Regions from separate parts of the Homo sapiens genome. Here all the other regions are linked to region 1. Evidence: fine-mapped expression QTL. A gene starts in region 1. Each other region holds a variant in brackets. All regions are shown on one strand. Distances are from middle to middle. Region 1 holds the start of USF2 (upstream transcription factor 2, c-fos interacting). Region 2 has its middle 4.6 kb from the start of FAM187B. Region 3 has its middle 11 kb from the start of CD22. Region 4 overlaps MAG (myelin associated glycoprotein).

Region 1 (5,144 bases):
CACCCCCCATCAATGTCCCATGAGACCCATGAGACATAAGCCCTCAGGCCTTTGAGCCTCCCTGACGCTCCAGGCCAGACTCCAGACCTGGCACAGGGCCTGTGCCGCTCAGCCCAGAACCCACGGGCAGTAAATATTTGTTGAATGATGGTTGTTTGGGTGTAAGCACTCTCCTGGCACTTGCACAGTGCTGTGCCCACTGCAGTGGCTACTGACAGGCGGGGCGGGACAGTGCTGAAGGCCAAATGACCTGAGGTGAGACCTGGTGTTTCTGGAAAGGGCAGGATGCTCCGGCCTTAGGTAGCCAGAGGCAGAACTTCATGCAGTTTCTCCCTCAGATGTGCTCCCTGGGGGAACAGACCTACTTCTGGAGGCCAGGCAGGCATGGGAGTGCGGGATGTGAGCATGACAGCTGCCACGTGGAAAGGTCAGCCCACGTGAGCCCGGTCAGCCCCATTTTTCAAGTGGGGCAGGCAATCCGTATGGGAGTGTGAAGTCCACCATCTTAGATGTGGGCCATGAATTCAAGATCACCAGCCGGGTCAACAAATGGCCAGTTCCAATTCACACTCCCTGTCCCTCTACTTCTGACACTGTACTCTCCCCTCGTTGCTCACTTTCTACCTTTACAGCGTCCAGCAAAGCCCTCTGGAGCACTTGTGGCCTGCCCAGGAGTGGCTTCTCTCTCTGTCACTCCACACTCCAGGGCTGGCTGAGCCTGTGAGGGTGGTGGTCAGGGGGACCCGGAGCCACACCTTGTCCTCACCTTCGTTGTGCTGGGCTCTTCTCCTCTCATCTCGGGGTGTTCTGGTTCCATCAATTTTTCTACAAGAGGAGGAAAAAAAAAGGGGGCATGTATTATCGCAGAGCTGTTTGCCCAAGCATCTGCTAAGTATTAGATTTGAAAATTATCTTTGCAAGGTAAATCCATCTGCAAAAACAAAAGACATGATACTTTATGTGCACTAGAGCAGCAGAAACAGGCAAAGAAAAAAAACATTACACCATGTGCCCACTTCATGCTAACTGCCCAGCTTCTACTCCAGAAACCCCTCTTCCTTCCATTTCAACACCAGGCCCTCCAGGTGTCCCCTGCACATACGGAGAGTAAGGGTGTGTCCGGGGGGCGATCGTCCTCTGTGTTCCTGTCTGAAGCACATCCTGGGGCGTCATCATGACGTAGAACTGGCCTGCAGGGAGAGTGGGGGGTTAGTGGCAAGGCAGGGTGAAGTCAGAACTGGCTGGGGGGGCTTCCCTCCCTGCTGGGCCCGTTGCCTCCCCCACCTGCCAATCTGACTTCTACTCCTCACCTCCAGCCTGCAAGCTCTGGTCTGTGGTCTGTACGGACACAGCCGTAGTATCTCCCACACTGGACGCTGGGAAATAGGCAAATCGTGCCTCCCCGCTGACAGCCTCGGCCGCCGGACTGCCACCATTGCTGAAGGGATTTTGGATCACAGCCTGGGGAGTAGGAGGGCAGAGGCTACCCTTAGCTTTCTCTGTTCCTCCATCCCGTCCCCTCATTGCTGTGCTTGGGGTTTACTGCATTCTCTGCAATTAACAGGAGTGGGGACTCCTTCTGCGTGTAGCATTCTGTCCTGTGTTTCAAACAGCCCTGGAACATGGCGGGAGGTCAGCGATCACTTGCTGAGCAAATCCGTTTCGCACTCTAAGAAACTTTCCTCTTAAGACACATCATTCCCATTTTGCGGGAAAAAAAAATTCCAAGAGCACTGTCCCCAGGTTTCACGGTGCACAACAGGGATCTGGCCCCATGCAGCCTGAGGCCTGAAGGCAGCATCCGCTGGGCGACACCTGCCCCACCCCCGGGGCTCCCCAAGAGCAGAGCCAGTGTCCCCTCTCCACTCCCTCCCCCCCCCACCCAGGGGTGGCAGGGCACCTACCAGCGGGAAGGGCGCTGCAGGACCTGGGGGCACAGAGGCAGCGGCGGGGCCCGGGCGCTGGGCTGCCCCGTCCACACCCACCTGGGTCACAGCCTGCTGCCCCCCCGCGAAGGCAGCGGTGGACACGACGCTGACGGCGCCAGCTGTGTCGCCCTGGCCGTCCAGCTGACCATCAGTCACCTGGACTACGCGGTATGTCACCTGCAGGGGGCGGCAGAGCGGCGAGGCCGGCGCTGGGGCCAGGTCCGAGCCTTCCCGGCGCGCCCGCCCGCCCGCCCGTTCGCCCTCGCGGCCCGCCGCTCACCTGTCCTCCATTTGTCTCTGTGCGGAACTGGTACTGGATGTTGTGGTCGCCGAACGCCGCCTGCTGGACGCTGGTGATGGCCACCGCTGTCTGCTCCTCCGCTCCTGGGCCGTCCCCGCCTGGGGCCGAGGAGGGTCGGGGCACGGTCAGGGCCGCGCCGAGCGCCCCCAGCCCTCCCCGGGCGCGGCCGGCCCGGCAAGCACTCACCTTCCTGCAGCTCGACGCCCTCCTCCGCCTCGGGTCCCTTGTCGTGGCTGCCAGGGGCACAGGAGGGAGCAGGGTCAGCGCGGCCCGCGCCCGCGCCCCCGCCCCCGCGCCCAGCTGCAGGGCCCCAGTCCCACCCGGCCGCGCCTGAGGCCGGGGGCGCCGCCGAGGCCGGGGGCCGGGGGCGGGAGGCGCCAGGTCCCCCCCGCGCCGGCGGCCTCCATTTTGAGCCGGGCCCGCGGCCGCTCGGGATCATGGCGGCCCCGGCCTGCAGGCCGCGGGGCCGGGGCCGGGGCCGGGGCGCGGGGGCACGGCCGGGCCGGGGATCTTACCTGGCGGCGGCAGCAGCGGTGGCCGAGGCAGCGGGATCCAGACCCGGGTCCAGCATGTCCATGGGGGGGGCGGGGGCGGGGGGGGCGCGGGGCCCGGGGGGGAGGGGAGGGGAGGGGAGGGAGGGAGGGGAGGGGGCGGGCGGCCGGGGGGGCCCCGAGCCCGGCGCTCACGCCGCGCGGCAGGAGGGGACGGAGGAGATACGGGAGCCGCTCGCGCTGATCACGGGGACAAACAGTGGGGTCATGTGAGGAGGAGATGCCGCCGCCGCCGCCGCAGCCGCCGCCGCTCCTGCAGCCGCTGCAGCCGCCGCCGCCTCCGCCTCCGCCCGCCCGCCGGCTCCGGGCGGCCCGAGGCTCCGGGACGCCGCGCGGCCGCCCCCAGCCCACCCAGCTGCCCGCCCGCTGCACGCGGCCCTCAGGCCTCCTTCCCTGAGCAGCCGCCGCCGCCGCGACTTTTTTTTTTGAACACGGCCCGCCCTGGCTGGCCGCCGCCAGTGCCCTGGATCGCCGGCTCGCGCGGCCGCCGCCCGGCTTGGCCCAGTCCGGCGGCGGATCGCTGCTGCAGCCGCCGCCGCTTTCTATTTTTCCCCCTTTTTTTTTTCCTCCTTTACTTGAGCTGCGCGCGCGCGGCGGCGGCGGCGGCGGCGGCGCGAGCCCCGGGGCGGACGCGCGCTGGGGGGAGGCGGCCCGGGGCGCGCGCGCTGGTCTGTCTCCGGGGGCGGGCGGGCGCGCGCGAGCCCGGGGCTCCGCGGGGCGCGAGGTCGCCGCGCGCCGCCCTGGTGAAACGCGGGTCTGGATGGAACGTCGGGGTACCCGGTGCAGGGGCTGGGGTCGTCGGGGGCCAGGTGGGCTGCCCGAGTTTGGAGACAGTAAAGTAGGTCGGTGGGGGGCTGGGGGGGATGGGCTGGAAGGGGAGAGGAGCGCGCGCGCGTCCCGGACGGCCAGCCTGCGGTGCGCGAAGGCGGAGGGCCGGGGCGCATGCGCACGCCTGGGCGGGGCCGGGGCGCGCACGCAGGCGGGCGGCGGCTGCGCGGGGCACGTTCTCCGGCCGGCGGCGCGGGCGCGGGCCGGGCCAGGCTGGGTCTCTTCCTCCCGGCCCCGGACTCCGGTGCCCCCGGGACGCGGCGCTTTACAGACGCATACGGGAGCAGCCCCGGTCCCCCGCCCCGCGCGGCCGAACAAATGGTTCTCTCCAGAGCTTGTGATTATACGTTTTATTAGACTCGGGAGGGGTATGGCAGGGCTTCATCAGTGTTCCTTCAAATTAAAAAAAAAAATACAAAAGCTACGTAGAAAACGTCAGATCAGACGACTAAACTTTCCCGACTCAGGGCCAAGTTCTGCAAGGGAGAAAGAAAGAAGGGTATGAGCCGCGGGGACCGGCTGGGGGCCCAGGGACGGTCTGGACGCCAGGGAGGGCGGCCCTCACCTTCTTGAGCCTGCGCTCTCGGGACGCCTGCGAGTCGGTCTCCGAGTACGGGGGCGGCGCGGGCGGGTAGTAGGCCTCTTCCTCCTCCTCCTTGTGGGGTCTCCTCCTCTCCTCCGACCCCTTCTTCCTCACAGCCTCCTCCAGTAGCCGCCCATCATAGGGGAGGTCCCCGGACCTGGAGCCGTTGTCCCGAGGGTCCCGGGTACGGTGGTGGTGGGACCTGGGGTCGGCAGGAGGGCGCTCCCGAGACCTGAAGTCGTCGTAGTGGGGGTCCCGGGAGCGTGGGAAGTCCCTCGAGTCGTCTTGGTCATAGAGGTCGTCCCGGCTGCGGCTCCGCGGGGGCATGTAGGCCCGGCTTCTCCCACCATTACTCGTGGGAGACCTGCTCCCTGACTCGGCGGTGCTCGGCGGGGTGAGGTCGTCCAGGGCGTCCACGGAGCGGGCCCGGGGCCGCCTGGCCCGCCAGCCCCCGCCTGCCTGCTCCCTGGCGGGCTCCTGGTCCCATCCCCTGGGACTCCGGGGGGAGTGGCCACCCCACTCCTCATCCCGGATCGGGGTGAGGGCAGGGCCCCGGGAAGGCCGAGATCGCCAGTCGTCCTCGTGGAGGGAGGTGACTTCACTCATGGCTGCAGGGAAGGGGGGTGTCACTGACTGCTGGAGGAGCCCGGGGTCCAGGGTTTGCACCAAGAGTCCCTGCGGCAGGTATCAGGGAGACATGTTTCACCCCCCCACCTTAAAAGCCCTCAGACCCCAAGGCTCCTGCTTACCCCGCTCCACACGGCCACTGGGGGGGCCAGGTCGAGAAGGGTCGAAGTTGGCCAGCTCCTTCTCCATGTAGTACAGGACCCGCATGGAGTCGTCCTGCTGGCTGGCCTGAATCCTGTAGCCACTGCGGACTTCTAGGGACAGGGGGGTGGTGGTCGGTTTGGGAGGATGGATCCTGGCCCACCCCTCTCCCTTACAGGCACATC
Region 2 (5,144 bases), 36 kb after region 1:
ATGGAAATCATTACTGCCATTTGCCAAAAGATTCCTGGAAATAGTAGAGTTCCATTTTTTTTTTTTTTTTTTTGAGATGGAGTCTTGCTCTGTCGCCCAGGCTGGAGTGCAGTGGCGCGATCTCGGCTCACTGCAAGCTCCGCCTCCCAGGTTCACGCCATTCTGCTGCCTCAGCCTCCCCAGCAGCTGGGACTACAGGTGCACACCGCCACGCCCGGCGAATTTTTTTGTATCTTTAATAGAGATGGGGTTTCACGGTGTTAGCCAGGATGGTCTCGATCTCCTGACCTCGTGATCCGCCGCCTCAGCCTCCCAAAGTGCTGGGATTACAGGCGTGAGGCACGGCGCCCAGCTAGAGTTCAATTTCTTTTGTTGGCTTGGTGGATTGGTGGTGCCATGTAGCTGTTTCTAGCCAATGGTTTGTGAGCAAGCGACATGACATGTGTTACTTAAGGGCAAAGCATTTAATGTAGACCCAAAATCTTACAGAGAGCTCTTTCTTTCTCCTTGGAAGAAACTGAAAATGTTTGAGATGGCAGTTGCGCCATCACCCTGGATTCCTGAGTGATTCCAATACCAATGCACAATGAGTAAAAAGTAAACCTTAGTTGTTTTATGTGGTTGAGATTTGGGGGGAATTTTTTTTTTTTTTTTTTTAGATGAAGTCTTGCTCTGTCACCCAGGCTGGAGTGCAGTGGCATGATCTCAGCTCACTGCAACATCCACCTCCCGGGTTCAAGTGATCTTCCTGCCTTAGCCTCCCAAGTAGCTGGGACTTCAGGTGCATGCCACCACACCTGGCTAATTTGTGTATTTTTAGTAAAGACAGGGTTTTGTCATTTTTTGTATTTTTAGTAGAGACAGGGTTGGCTAGGTTGGTCTCAAACTCCTGACCTCAGGTGATCTGCCCTCCTTAGCCTCCCAAAGTGCTGGGATTACAGGCGTGAGCCACCACACCTGGCTGGAAGTTTATTATAGTAGCAAATAACTTATCTAGATTGATACCAAAATAGTATCAGGAGTAGGGTGCTGAGGTAATCAAAAATAAAAAGACAGCATTGGCTTAGATACCTTTGGGACTAAGACACTTATTTGAAACCAGAAGGATGGAGGCTGTTGCCTGAGATACTCTGGAAGGCAGATAATGTATTTAATGGACTTGTAGCTTTCAAGGAAGCTGCTGGAATATAAGATGTTAGCAGTATAAGTTGGCCAAAGTTAGCTAAAAATTGAGAAGGGCTTTGAGAGATAAAGTCCAATTAGAATTCAGCTTTTGACAAGGATAAAATCAAAAGTATAAGCCTAGGTAAATAATTATTACCCATTGTTTAAAAATTCTCTGAATGAATTAAGATACTACCAGAAAACGCTTTCAGGTGGACAAATGTCTCCATGAAAGAGAGTTAAGAGATATAGCTCGCCAAGGATGGCTGATAGAGTTTAAGGTACCTGAAATGAGAAAGAGACAGAAAGAGAGAGAGGATAAGAGCATCTTTTTTTTTTTTTTTTTTAGACAGAGTCTTGTGCTGTTGCCCAGGCTGGAGTGCAGTGGTGTGATCTTGGCTCACTGCAACCTCCATCTCCCAGGTTCAAGCAATTCTCCTGCCTCAGCCTGCTATGTAGCTGGGATTACAGGAGCCCACCACCACACCTGGCTAATTTTTGTATTTTTAGGAGAGACAGGGTTTCACCATGTTGCCCAGGCTGGTCTCGAACTCCTGGCTTCAAGCAATCCTCCCACCTTGGCCTCCCAAAGTGCTGAGATTACAGGCGTGAGCCACCGAGCCCAGCCTGAGAACATCTCGAACAGAACTACGGCTATGTGTGTGTTTTTGTTTGTTTGTTTGTTTGTTTGTTTACATATTTAGTTGACTAGAGGCTTATAAGAACCGTAGGTCCCAAACTGTGGGAGATAGAAAGCAGGCTGAGTAAACTGCTGTTGTCTCAAGGAGGGCACATCTTCAGATGTAGCCAAGGAGAATATGAGAAAAGGAGATATTTCCCTGGAGAGTGAGACATGACCCACAGAGAACAATGATTTGGGAATCCCCCTACCCTCCCCACACACAACAAGGAGCTGCTTCGGTGCTAGTTAAGGAATCTTTCCCATCTACAAGATAGGGGGTCCTTGTAATGTTTTCCCACTGGATTGCAGAAGTGGTACAGAGCAGTGATTTCTGTGTGTCTTCCCTTTCTCTCTCTCTCTTTCTTTTCTTTTTCTCTCTCTCTCTTTCTTTCTTCTTTCTCTTTTTTTTTTTTTGAGACAGAGTCTTTCTCTGTTGTCCAGGCTGGAGTGCAGTGGTGGATCTCAGCTCACTGCAACCTCTGCCTCCCGGGTTCAAGAGATTCTCCTGCCTCAGCCTCTCAAGCAGCTGGGAATACAGGCATGCACCACCACACCTGGCTAATTTTTGTATTTTTAATAGAGACGGGGTTAGACGGGGTTTCACCATGTTGGTCAGGCTGGTCTTGAACTCCTGGCCTCAGGTGATCCACCGGCCTCAGCCTCCCAAAGTGTGCTGGGATTACAGGTGTGAGCCACTGGGCCCTGCCTCTTCTTCCACTTTCTGATGGTCATAAAGTCATTTTGTCCCATTCCATCATTATATATTGGGTATGTGGAGGGCCAATAATTTGCCTTTGTAGTTCGTTTGTTCTGATTTAAGCTCACCCATTTTGTTTCCTGCCTAGCTCATGTGGATATTTGACCTTCGACCCTACAACCTATGACAAGCCATTTGATGACA[C/T]GAACTGAATTGTACTCCTGGAAGCACAGTGGATCAAGTTTCATTCCATTGCCTAGGCTGATCCTCGAGTTTTGTGAGTGACTTCACAATGGCCAGGGAGTTCCTAGCCTCCTTCTACAGCCTTGGTCCACTATGCTGGACACCCTGTGGCTGCTTAGCCTTTCTTGCCCCACTCTGTGAGCCTAGATGTTAATCAGCTGTGCCTACAAGGACCTTTGCCAGCGAGCCCTACTCTCAGGCAGTGATGCTGTCCTGAAGTGTGACCATCCCATGGCACTCTGGTACTTCTCTTCCATTCTTGGGGAAGATCCTTCTCTGCTTAATTCAATGCCTGACATAAGGAAACTGCCTGGGGGTAGCCTTCAATTGACCAACCCTCAGCCCTCCCAGACTGGCCTCTATCGCTGCCAGGGCAATGATGATACCCTCATGGTACAATACGAGATCGACTTCCAGGTTGTCACCACCCTTCATGTTACGCACAAGAGCCTGGACCAAAAGTCCCTGCAGAATGAGACCCTGATCCTGGATGGCAAGGTACTCATCTTTACCCACTGGGACCCCCGGCAGGACTGTAACCGCTGTGGGGAACTGGGTGAGTGCAGACGCCTGGGGTACTGCTACATTGAGGAGCCCGTGGAAAAACCTATGCCCTGCCAGCTGTATCTGAGAGATGAGAAGATGCAATTCAGCCGCATGCGGCCCGAACTGCAGGTGGAAGCCTGCCACGTACCCTGCAACCCCGTCAAGGAAATTCACTAGCCATACCTCATCTTTGATTTTTACCAGCCTGGCAAGTGGATGAACAACAGGTGGCTCACCTGCCCCTTGGCCTCCATCTACAGGTGACAGGACCAGGGCCGTAGCCCTGCCCTTGACCCTCACCCAGACTTTGTTTTCTGTGTTCACCTGGGCTCATGGGTTACCTTCCAACAGAAAACCGGGCTCCGTCTCCCAGCCCATAAGCCTTCATGTTGGTTCTGCTAAGGAAAAGGTCTCCTCACTGGCTTGCTGAGATGCGCATGCAGGAAGAATTCCCTGGTGTTTCCTCTGAGTGTGCCCTGGGCAGGTGATGTTAGGGACACAGCAATGACCTAGTTCTTGTCTGCACAGGCTTCTGATATTCAGGGGGAGGCCAAATGTAGAATCTAGAGACCGAGCTACTCAGGCCCATGGGCTCATGACAATGTAGACACTGATGTTTCTGTCTCCTGATTGGACCCTGGATACAATTTATCTATCCATCCTTGTCCCAATGCCACAGTGTCTTTGGTTTTCTTTTTTTTTTTTCCTTTTATTTGTTTATTTATTTTTGAGATGGAGTCTCCCTCTGTTGCCCAGGCTGAAGTGCAATGGCGCAATCTCAGCTTACTGCAACCTCCATCTCCCAAATTCAAGCGATTCTCCTGCCTCAGCCTCCCAAGTAGCTGGGATTGCAGGCATCCGCAACCATGCCCGGCTAATTCTTATATTTTTAGTAGAGAAGGGGTTGGCCAGGCTGGTTTTGAACCCCTGACCTCAAGTGATTCTGCCCTCCTTGGCCTCCCAAGTGCTGAGATTACAGGCACAAGCCACTGCACCCAGCCCACAGTGTCTTTTTATACCTTTCAATAAGTCACAATATGTGGTAGTGTTTCCCAACTTTGTTCTTCAAGATTGTCTTGGTTATTCTTGGCCCATTATATACAAATTTTGGAATCGGTTTGTAGTTTCCACCCCAAAACTCTTATTTTTTTTTAATTGGGACTTTATTGAATCTAAAGATAAATTTGGGGTAAATCAATATATATTCAATATTTAGTCTTCCAATCCGTGAATGTGGCAAATACTTCCATTGTTTAGTCTTTCTTTAATTTCTCCCAATAATGTGAAGTTATTAATGTAGAGGACTCACATATCTTTTATTATATTTATTCCTAGGTATTTAATTTTTTCATACTATCCTATAGTAATCTTTTAAGTTTCATCTTTTAATTCTTTGTTGCTGGTATATAAATCATATTTAATATATGACCTTATATCTAATTTTTTGCTTGTATCTTACCTCCAGTAAAATGCTGAATGGAAAAGTTGATGGCAGAAATACTTGTGTTATTCTTAGTATTTTACTATGAAGTATAATTTAGCCCTAGGTGTTTTTGTTTGTTTGTTTGTTTTTTGTTTTTTTTTTGAGACAGGGTCTCACTCTGTTGCCCAGGCTGGAGTGCAATGGCGCAATCTCAGTTCACTGCAACCTTCGCCTCCTGGGTTCAAATGATTCTCCTGCCTCAGCCTCCCAAGTAGCTGGGACTACAGGCACCCACCATCACACCCGGCTAATTTTTGTATTTTTAGTAGAGATAGGGTTTCGCCATGTTACCCTAACTGGTCTCGAACTCCTGACTTCAGGTGATCCAC
Region 3 (5,144 bases), 49 kb before region 1:
AGGGAAGCAGTGAAAGCAGGCAACTAACAGAGTCCCTGTGAGCCCTGGGTGGCTACTCCCTGCCTGGCTATGTCCCCCTCACCCCCCAACCTCTGCCCAGGATGGTAAGACGGGAACAATGATAGTGCCTTCCTCACCGGGCTGGTGACAGCACACACAGGACACACTCAGCAACTCGCACATCCCATGACAAGCATGTGGTAAAAAGACCCGGGTTCCAGTCCCAGGTCTGCCACGTGTTTGTTGTGACATCACCTCAGTTTCCCTCCCAGGGTGATAATAAGATTGCTGTTATGACTTCAGGGCTATGCTGTGACAGGTCCCCAGCCCCTACAGCACTTTGCATGGTGGCTGCTATGGAACGGGCTCTCTGTAAAAGTGAGCTGTCATTATTCCAGACATTGTCACTTACGCTGCTGACCCAGCACTCCCTGCAGACATTAATTCACCCACCTCTGGCTACTCAGCCCTAGCCTGAGCTTCACAGAGAGGCCCTTTGGGACTAAACTGTCATTTCCTTCCCGCTCCCCAGGCAGATCGAGCTCTAGGGTGGGAAGGGGCCTTTGGCTCAGCTGCTGCCAGACTTCTCTGTTCTATCTTTGCAACTTCCTGTGATAATTATTTCAAAATTAAAAGATTTTTTTTTTTAATTTGCGAGGTTGAGGTTGTCACCTCCTGTTTAAGGAGCAGCCTGGAGTTGAGAGCGAGAAGAGTGGGGAAAGAAAGAGGCTCGCCTACTTCTCCTTTTTTTCTCCCCCTTTTTCTTTTCTTTCTTTTTTTTTTTTTTTTTTTTTTTTCTGAGACCAAGTCTCACTCTGTTGTCCAGGCTGGAGTGCAATGGTGCGATCTCAGCTCACTGCAGCCTCCGCCTCCCAGGTTCAAGCAATTCTCCTGCCTTAGCCTTCTGAGTAGCTGGGACTACAGGCGCGTACCACCACGCCTGGCTAATTTTTGTATTTTTAGTAGAGATGGGGTTTTGCCATGCTGGCCAGGCTGGTCTTAAACTCCTGACCTTAGATGATCTGCCCGCCTTGGCCTCCCAAAGTGCTGGGATTACAGGCATGAGCACCACATTCGATCTTTTTTTTTTTCTTTTTTAGTGACTGAGTCTTACTCTGTTGCCCAGGCTGGCATGCAGTGGTGCACTCATAGCTCACTGCAGATTCAAACTCCTGGGCTCAAGTGGTCCTCCTGCTTCAGCCTCTTGAGTAGCTGGGATGACAGGCATGCACTACTGTGCCCAGCTTATTTTTAAACATTTTTTTTTCTACATACAATGTCTGCTGTGTTGCCCAGGCTGGTCTTGAACTCCTAGAAAGCACTTCTCAGCAGTGCGGTGCATCTCTACCCCCGGCCAGTCGCAAGAGCCCAGCCCTGCATGATCACCCACCTGGGGAGGAGGCTCTGGAGTGGCCAGTGCTGGCTGGGAGCTCTTTCATCAAGGAGGATAATGGAGCTGCCTGCCCCAGGCACTGTCCCAGGGACAGGGTGGGAGGCGGGCCAGGGATGGATCAGTCATCTCCGTCAGGAGTGACTCAGGAGGTTGGCAGACCGGGAGGGACAAAGAGACCCGTGTCATGACCATGGCCTGGTGCCTGGGTGTCCTCCCTCCCACACGTGGTGGCCCAGCCCTACTGGCACGTGAGGCCATGAGACCTTCTCACCTTCCTTCCTGCCTGGCCAACCCTCATCTCAGCGTCTGCCCCCATCTCTCTGAGTCACTGTGTCATGTGTTCTGACTCTTCCTCGGCTTGGCATTTCCCAGGGAGGGGGTGCCATCTGCCTTCCCTGTCCCTGAGGGCCTCCCTGGGCCTGAACTCGGCCGGAGTAGATCACTCTTGCGTTCTCCACTGAACCTGCCCCTCCTGCTTTCTTCAACCTCTTAAGGAAGCTGCTGGAGTCACCTTTGACTCTTCAAGTGAGTC[T/C]CACCACTTCCTCCTCCAAAATGGGTCCTGACCCCACCCCTCTCCCCATCTCCACTTCCTCTCTCTTGGACAATGGCCAGGGCCTCCCAAGCCCTGTCCCTGCCTCCACTGATAGCCTGTGCTCACTGTCCACGCAGCTGCCAGTGGGCCTCTGAAGCCTCAAGCCTGCCATCACACCCCTCCGAACTCACTTCTCCAGCGGCTTCTCAACGCGCTCTTTGAAAGCCCAAGTCCTGGCTGGGCACAGTGGTTCACACTTGTAATCCCAGCACTTTGGCAGGCAGAGGCAGGCAGATAACTTGAGGTCAGCAGTTCGAGACCAGCCCGGCCAACATGGTGAAACTCCGTGTCTATTAAAAATTAGTTGGGCATGGTGGTGCGTGCCTGTAATCCCAGCTACTTGGGAGGCTGAGGCAGGAGAATCACCTGAACTCGGGAGGCGGAGGTTGTAATGAGCCGAGATCATGCCACTGCACTCTAGCCTTGGTGACAGAGCGAGACTCCATCTCAAAAAAAAAAAAAAAAAAAAAACCTAGGATTAAATTCCATTGCTGGGCGGGATGGCTCACGCCTGTATTCCCAGCACTTTGGGAGGCTGAGGCGGGTGGATCACCTGAGGTCAGAAGTTTAAGAGCAACCTGGTCAACATGGTGAAACCCCGTCTCTACTAAAAATATAAAAATTAGACAGGCGTGGTGGTACATGCTTGTAATCCCAGCTACTCAGGAGGCTGAGGCAGGAAAATTGCTTGAACCCGGGAGGCAGAGGCTGCAGTGAGCTGAGATTGTGCCACTGCACTCCAGCATGGGCAACAGAGTGAGACTCTGCCTCAAAACAAACAAACAAAGAAACAAACAAACAAGCCCCAGTCCTGCCTGTGGCCTACAAGGCCCTGTGTAATCGAGCTTCCTTGGGCAACAGAGCGATACTCTGCCTCAAAACAAACAAACAAAGAAACAAACAAACAAGCCCCAGTCCTGCCTGTGGCCTACAAGGCCCTGTGTAATCGAGCTTCCTTGGGCAACCACTCTGGCTCCATCACTCCACTCAAGCATGCTTCTTTCCTTCTTGTTCCATGAAGGTAACAAGTACATTCTCGCCAGGGGCCTTTGCACTCGATTTTGGCCTTCCCTGGACCCACATTCCCCAGGAACCCACAGAGCTCCCTCCCTTACTTCCTTCTGGTCTCAAGTCAAATGACTTCTCTTTCTGAAATGGCAGCCTGACCCAGCACAGCCTGACCTTGCACCCCTCTGCAGTTCCTTCACTGTCAGATGTGCGGTCATGTGTTTGCTTGTCTTTCTGATCGTTGTCTGTCTCTTCTGCAGAATGTCAGCTCTGGGAGGTCACAGAGTGATTCTTTTTGGGCACTGCTGTGACCCTGGGGCCCAGCATAGGCCTGGCACACAGAGGTGCTCAGTGAGCATGTGTTGAATTCTGGTGGGGTCCAGGAGCTGGGTGGGGAAAGTCTGAGAGAGTGAACTTGAGTTCAGGTCCTACTGGTTTGTTTGTTCGTTTTTTGAGACAGGGTCTCACTCTGTTGCTGAGGCTGGAGTGCAATGGTTCAATCTCGGCTCACTGCAAACTCCATTTCCTGGGCTCAAACTATCCCTCCCACCTCAGCCTCCCGAGTAGGTAGGACTACAGGCGCATGCCACCATACCTGCCTAATTTTTGTATTTTTTGTAGAGACAGGGTCTCGCTATGTTGCTGAGGCTGGTCTCAAACTCCTGGGCTGAAGCCATCCACCAGCCTCAGCCTCCCAAAGTGCTGGGATTACAGGCATGAGCCACCGCACCTGGCTCGGTCCTACACGTTCGCCATGGCTGAGTGCCGGTCCCTCCTAAGGATGGTCTTTGTGTCAAATTCCCTCATTGTTTCCCAAACTTTAGAGGTTTGCCTACAACCTTCAGGAGCCACCTGCAACATGTTTATTTAATACATTTTTAAAATCAGTTCAGTTGATTGATTTCTTTCTTATTTATTTATTTTGACTTAGCCTCATCCGAAGCTGGTGCGGCATTCTGGTTTCCTGTTGTTCCGGTGCATACTAAATGAAGCATACACAGTAGCGTCACAGTGGCTCCCAGGGCCCTCAAGCTGCACTTTGGGCAGCGTGAGTTACTCCCCGATCCCTGGTTATTGACAATGTTTTGCTCCTCTGGGTGAAGTCCTCCCAGGCCAGACCTGCTGGAGCCAGAGTCTGTCGTCAGGGGACAGGTGTGTCAGGGCAGGGCTGGTGAGCATGTATGCAGGGGATCTGGAAGAGGCTTCCCTCCCGGCTGCTGAGAGGCCCCTGTGTATCCCCAGCCCCATCCGATGCCTCTCTGGCCTTGCTTCAGCTCCTGGAATTTTGCTAAACATGTTCCCACTTGGGGCCTTCACACATGTGTGAGTTTCCTTCCATAGGGAAGCCTCCCCTGCCCCCTGTGACCTTAAGTCACACAGCGGTCCCCAACCTTTTTGGCACCAGGGATTGGTTTCATGGAAGACAATTTTTCCATGGGCCTGAGAGTGGGGAGGGAGCTGGGGATGATTCAAGCACATTACATTTATTGTGCACTTTATTTCTATTATTATTACATTGTGATATATAATGAAGTAAGTATACAACTCACCATCATGTAGAATCAGTGGGAGCCCTGAGCTTGTTTCCCTGCAACTAGACGTTCCCATCCGGGGGTGATGGGAGACAGTGACAGTTCATCAGGCACCATCTGTGAGTGTGCAACCTAGATCCTTTGCGTGCACAGTTCACGATAAGAATCGTGCTGCTATGAGAATCTAAAGCCGCTGCTGATCTGACAGGAGGCAGGACTCAGGTGGTCATGCTTGCTCGCTGGCTGCTCGCCTCCTGCTGTGCAGCCCAGTCCCTAACAGGCCACAGACCAGTATCTGGGTGTGCAGTATAGCACTGGGGACCCCTGCTGTAAAAACTCTGAGCTTCTCCTTGGAAGCCGGTGTCACAGTTGCAGTTTGATATTGTGCATGAGATTCTTTCATGTCCTTGTCCCTGCAAGACTGTGAGCTCCGTGAAGAAAGGGCATGCACCCTCCCAGCTTGGACAGGCCCCACAGAGGGTTTCCCTTCCCACAGCCCGGCCCCCCACACGTCTCCTTTCCTCCTGCATGTGGACTTCCCATCCCAGCCAAGCAGCCCCATGTCACCTCCCCTCCCGACCTGGTTTGTTTATTCCTGCCTCTAGGCCTTTATTTTGGT
Region 4 (5,144 bases), 37 kb before region 1:
CTCTCTAACCTCATTCACCTTGTAATACATAAATCAGATCATGGCACTCTCTGCTCAAAACCCTCCTTCTGTTGCTCCGTGGTTCACCTAAAATACAAATCCTTTATTTTTTATCGTTTAGAGACAGGGTCTGGCCCTGTCGCCCAGGCTGAAGTGCAGTGGCAGTACTATAGCTCATTTGCACTCTTGGCCTCTAGTGATCCTCCCGCCTCAGCCTCCCAAAGTGCTGGGATTACAGGCATAAGCCACTGCGCCCAGCCACATTTGACCATTTTTGACATGCAGAAAAAATTTCACATAGTTCAATGTAATGTATACAGCAAAAAGTACGAATATTCACCCTAAATGAAATCAGTATAGATTACAAACAGCCTTGTGTTCTTTAGGCGAGATTTTGCTGTCAAATCAGGGTGGTGCCAAATTTGCAAAAAGCCTTTTGATTTTAAAGCTTTATGTTCAGAATTGCAGAGGACGGTAAATCTGTCATACTCATGATAGTTACTGGAGGGTTTTTGTTTGTTTTTGTAGAGACAGGGTCTTGCTATGTTCCCCATGCTGGTCTTGAACTCCTGAGCTCAAGCAATCCTCCTGCCTTGGCCTCCCAAAGTGCTGGGATTATAAGGCGCAAGCCACTGTGCCCAGCCCAAAATACAAAGTCTTTCATCTACAAGGCCCCTCAGGCCCTGCCTGACCACACACTCTCTCCTTCTCTCCCCCTGGCTTAGTCCTTTCCAGCCACACCGGTTCCTTGCTGTGTCTGAAAATCGTGGAGCTTTCTCCCACTCCAGGGTCTGTACGTTTCTCCCTCAACTTGGAACACTTCCATCAGTTGCCTGTGGAACGCCCTCCCTCGCTCCAAACTGGCCTCTACCCATGCGGCGTCTCCTTCTCTGACCACCCAGGGAAGCTGCACCTCGCTCCACGTATCATTCACTCCCTGCCTCACTCAGTTCTCCTCCCCAGCACTCACCCTCCCTGCATCACACACTTACATAAGGGGCCTCCTGTTTCCATCAAGACAGGGGCTTGCTCCTTCTCCACTCTGGGCCCCACACGTAGAAGGGAGGAACCATGGAACTCTCCCAGCCCCCGGCCTCCCCAGACCCTTGGGGCTCACACAGGCTTAGACTATCCCCTCCTTTCTGGCTTCCAGGCTGTGCTCCTTCCTTTCAGTCTGCGCTGCAGATGCCCCCCACTTCCTCCCCTAAAGCCGCCTTGAACCCCGGCCCTTCCTCACCCATGAGATTCCCTCCTGCCACTAGCACCAAACACCACCCTCCACCCAAAGTCACTTGGTTGAGCTTTGCTTTGCTGCCACTGGATTACAAAAATAGTACTGGTAGGTTTTTTCTTTCATTTTCCAAAACAGGAAATTATTATTATTATTATTGTTATTACTATGATTTTTGAGACGGAGTCTCTCTGTCGCCCAGGCTGGAGTGCAGTGGCACGATCTCTGCTCACTGCAACCTCTGCCTCCCAGGTTCAAGTGATTGTCCTGCCTCAGCCTCTTGAGTAGCTGGGACTACACGTGCGTGCCACCATGCCTGGCTAATTTTTGTACCAAAATACGCAATTGTATTACAGCACAGAATGCTGCTTTTTAAACTGTGTTCTCTTTCTTGGCCTGAGAGTCCAGCACCCTCCTTGGCTTGCTCTAGACTGAGCACTGGTTCTCAGTGAGTTCTCACCAAAACCCACTTACACACAGGCAAGAGACCCTTGGCTCACCTACCCCACCTATTTTCAATTGCTAGCAAAAAGAATGTGCCGGTAACGGTGGTGGACCTGGGAGTCACACGGGCACACGGATTCACGGCAGGAATGGGAACCTCTGTGCAAACATCTCTAAGTCTACTGAATAAAAAGTCCTGTTCGGGCAGAGCTGCAATATGCTTGCTATAGCGTTAACCAGCTAACACGCCACGGAGTACATTAATAACAGCGAACCTGAACCGACAGACATAAAACTTTTTCAAAGCACTTCCACTCAAGACAGCCCCACTGGTGCTCTGGTGACAAAGTGTTCGACCTGGATGTCGGCGGAACGCCGACACCCTGCCGGTGCACGTGCTTAGTATCTTTTCAGACAACCTGTGAAGCTGCGGAAACTGTTATGGGACTCTAGACAAACCTGTAAGACAAAGGTACAAAGAATGAGGAGTTTGTGGTGGGATGGATTTGGCTTGAATCCCAGCTCTGCCATCTACTGGCTGGGTGAGGCCACTCAGGCTCCTGGGCCTCTAGGATGGAGTTCTCATCTGTGCAAACCAGGGGGTTACAGTCAGTAACTCACAAGGGGCTACGGGACTCCGAAGATAGGCGCGCAAGTGTGTTGTAAACACTTAACATCCCAGCCGGGTGCAGTGGCTCACACCTGTCATTCCAGCACTTTGGGAGGCCAAGGCAGGAGGATCACTTGAGCCCAGGAGTTTGAGACCAGCCTGGGCAACAGAGCAAGACCCCATCTCTACAAAAAATTAAAACATTAACTGGGCATGGTGATGTGTGCCTGTAGTCCCAGCTACTCAGGAGGCTGAAGTGTGAGAATCAGTTGAGCCCAGGAGGTTGAGGCTGCAGTGAGCGATGATCAAACCACTGCATTCCAGCCTGGGCAACAGAGCAAGACCCTGTCTCAAAAAAATAAAAAATTAAAATTAAAAATACGTAACATCCCACCCAAGTACTCATGGGTGGATAGACAGAACCATTCC[C/A]GCAGAGAGGTCACATGAGCAAAACCTCAGCAGCAAAACACACAACAAATATTTAACCTGGAGTCCAAAGGAAAAATCAGTGAGAAAGATGATGACATCCAATATCCACAGAGTATGTAGCACTATGAACACTCAGTATTGTTCTCTTAGTTCTTCTTTTTTGTGGGGGAGTGGGGGGGTGGGACAGTCTTGCTCTGTCATCCAGGCTGGAGTGTGGGGGTGGGACAGTCTTGCTCTGTCATCCAGGCTGGAGTGGGGGGATGGGACAGTCTTGCTCTGTCATCCAGGCTGGAGTAGGGGGGTGGGACAGTCTTGCTCTGTCATCCAGGCTGGAGTGGGGGGATGGGACAGTCTTGCTCTGTCATCCAGGCTGGAGTGGGGGGGTGGGACAGTCTTGCTCTGTCATCCAGGCTGGAGTGGGGGGCTGGGACAGTCTTGCTCTGTCATCCAGGCTGGAGTGCACTGGCTCCATCTCAGCTCACTGCAACCTCCACCCCCCGGGCTCAAGCGATTCTCCTGCCTCAGCCTCCTGAGTAGCTGGAACTGCAGGTGTGCGCCATCACGCCTGGCTAATTTTTGTATTTTTAGTAGAGATGGGGTTTTGTCAGGTTGGTCAGGCTGGTCTCGAACTCCTGGCCTCAAGTGATCCAACTGTCTCAGCCTCCCAAAGTGCTGGGACTACAGGTGTGGGCCACCACGCCCAGCCTAATTCTCTTAGTTCTCACAGCCATCTTTGTGGTAAGATACTGTTATGAACCCTTGCTAAGGGTTGCAAAGCTGAAGTCACTCGCCTGAGCTCAGGCAGGAGGATGGGGACAGAGCTGGGATTCTAGCCCAGGTCTGTTCAGCCCTGTTGGGACTGGATGCCAGTCAAACTTCTGTTTCCTTGTATTAAACTGGGTTGAAGAATGGTACCCTCCCCTCAATCACATGGTTGTAAGAACAAAATAGGTCAATGCGTACAACGTACTCAAGCTAGTTCCCTAGACATCTCAGGCACTCGGTAAGGTTGCACACTTCCTGCATGCCCCGTGCCGTTCAGGGCTCTGGGGTTGGCAGGTAAGACAGAAGGCCCTGCTCAAGGGTCACCACCACTGTCAGTGAACATTGGAGACCTGGTGCCAGGGAACATTGACTGTGTGGAGAGGGAGGGGGCCTGAGGGTCGCACTCTCCAAGGGCAAGCACTTTGACACAGGCCTGGGTGAAGAGTAGGGAGCTGGCAGGTGGGGCAGGGGACAGGGCCACTGCTCCCCTCAAGTCTAGCAGGTGAGGCCTGCACACTCCACATCTGCCTGCGTGTTCGTTTTCAAGAGAAGCCGGATTGAGTCCTAGAGTGCTAAGAGCTGTGAGGGAGGTGAGGCAGCCAGAGGTTTAACAGCTGGGGCAGACAGGAGTCTGGAATTATCGGGCTCGGACCCACTTTTATAGCTGCCTGGCCTCAGGGAATTCCGCCCTTGAGTTTTCTCCTTGGTAAAGGGGATAATTATAACACACCCCTGTTTCACAGGGTGACCCTAGAATTGAAAATGAGCCAGATAGGCTGGGCATGGTGGCTCACACCTGTAATCCCAGCACTTTGGGAGGCCGAGGCGGGTGGATCACTTGAGACTAGGAGTTGGAGAACAGCCTGGGCAACATGGAGAAACCCCGTCTCTACTAAAAATAAAAAATTAGCTGGGCATGGTGACGCATGCCTGTAATCCCAGCTAGTTGGGAGGCTGAGGCAGGAGAATCGCTTGAATCTGGGAGGCAGAGGTTGCAGTGAGCCAAGATCGTGCCACTGCACTCTGGCCTGGGTGACAGAGCGAGACTCAGTCTCAAAAAAAAAATAATAATAATAATAAAAATAAGAACTGAACCAGAAAACAGCTGTAGAGGATTCAAGGTCTGGCCCAGGGCAGGCCCCTAACGCGCATTTGCTGCCTGCTGCTCTTACTATAAAGGAGAGATCTGCACCCCACCGGAAAATGTATGTGAGTTGGTGCTGCAGGCTTGTTCAAGTACTCCCATCGGCTCCTCTCTCTGACTCTTAAACTGAAGAATCACTGGTGTGGGGTGTAACAGGGATCAGGGGACAACCAGAGGGGGAAGCTGGCCCAGGATAGCACGCACAGTTGGAGGGAGCAGGGGACCACGCAGCCCCGCGCCAGGATCACATCAGCCCCGCTAGGGAACAGAACCAGGAGGGAAAGTGCCTGAAGATTATAGGTCAGCAGGAGAGGGACGGCTTTGCCACGAGAGGTTGCCCCCGAGGACTAACCTGTATCTGCCATGTACTGATTGTCGCCATGTACACAGCACAGAGCATGTACTGTGTAGCAGACACTGCTTTGAATTCTTTGCATGTTGAATGTCATCGAACCTTCTGGCAAACTTGTGTGGTGGGGGCCATTGTGGGCATCGTGAAGACCAGAGAGGTGAAATTTGGG

Evidence for each region. PIP is the estimated chance that this variant, and not a neighbour inherited with it, causes the effect.
Region 2: its variant is the best candidate, but not a certain one, in a credible set for the expression of USF2 in whole blood (TOPMed, PIP 0.83).
Region 3: its variant is the best candidate, but not a certain one, in a credible set for the expression of USF2 in lung (TOPMed, PIP 0.50).
Region 4: its variant is the best candidate, but not a certain one, in a credible set for the expression of USF2 in whole blood (INTERVAL, PIP 0.65).

Annotation. Positions count from the first base shown.
Region 1 is chr19:35,266,764-35,271,907 of GRCh38, reverse strand. USF2 (upstream transcription factor 2, c-fos interacting) reads right to left here and starts at 2,946. Exons shown (of 10, transcript NM_003367.4): 1 at 2,745-2,946; 2 at 2,416-2,462; 3 at 2,209-2,327; 4 at 1,905-2,105; 5 at 1,311-1,461; 6 at 1,103-1,190; 7 at 767-825. The coding sequence starts at 2,806. LSR (lipolysis stimulated lipoprotein receptor) reads right to left here. Exons shown (of 10, transcript NM_205834.4): 8 at 4,941-5,072; 9 at 4,174-4,799; 10 at 3,944-4,084. The coding sequence ends at 4,049. RefSeq lists an enhancer at 851-1,590 and silencers at 1,878-2,197, 2,338-2,527, 3,686-3,835, 3,936-4,005, 4,086-4,165.
Region 2 is chr19:35,230,739-35,235,882 of GRCh38, reverse strand. It overlaps the pseudogene FAM187B2P. Among named protein-coding and RNA genes, the nearest start is that of FAM187B, 4.6 kb to the right of the region's middle. The variant C/T (reference allele first, on the strand shown) is at 2,748.
Region 3 is chr19:35,315,679-35,320,822 of GRCh38, reverse strand. No RefSeq gene overlaps it. Among named protein-coding and RNA genes, the nearest start is that of CD22, 11 kb to the left of the region's middle. RefSeq lists an enhancer at 1,599-1,778. The variant T/C (reference allele first, on the strand shown) is at 1,926.
Region 4 is chr19:35,303,949-35,309,092 of GRCh38, reverse strand. All of the region lies in intron 7 of MAG (myelin associated glycoprotein), which reads right to left. Among named protein-coding and RNA genes, the nearest start is that of MAG, 14 kb to the right of the region's middle. RefSeq lists an enhancer at 3,476-4,363. The variant C/A (reference allele first, on the strand shown) is at 2,715.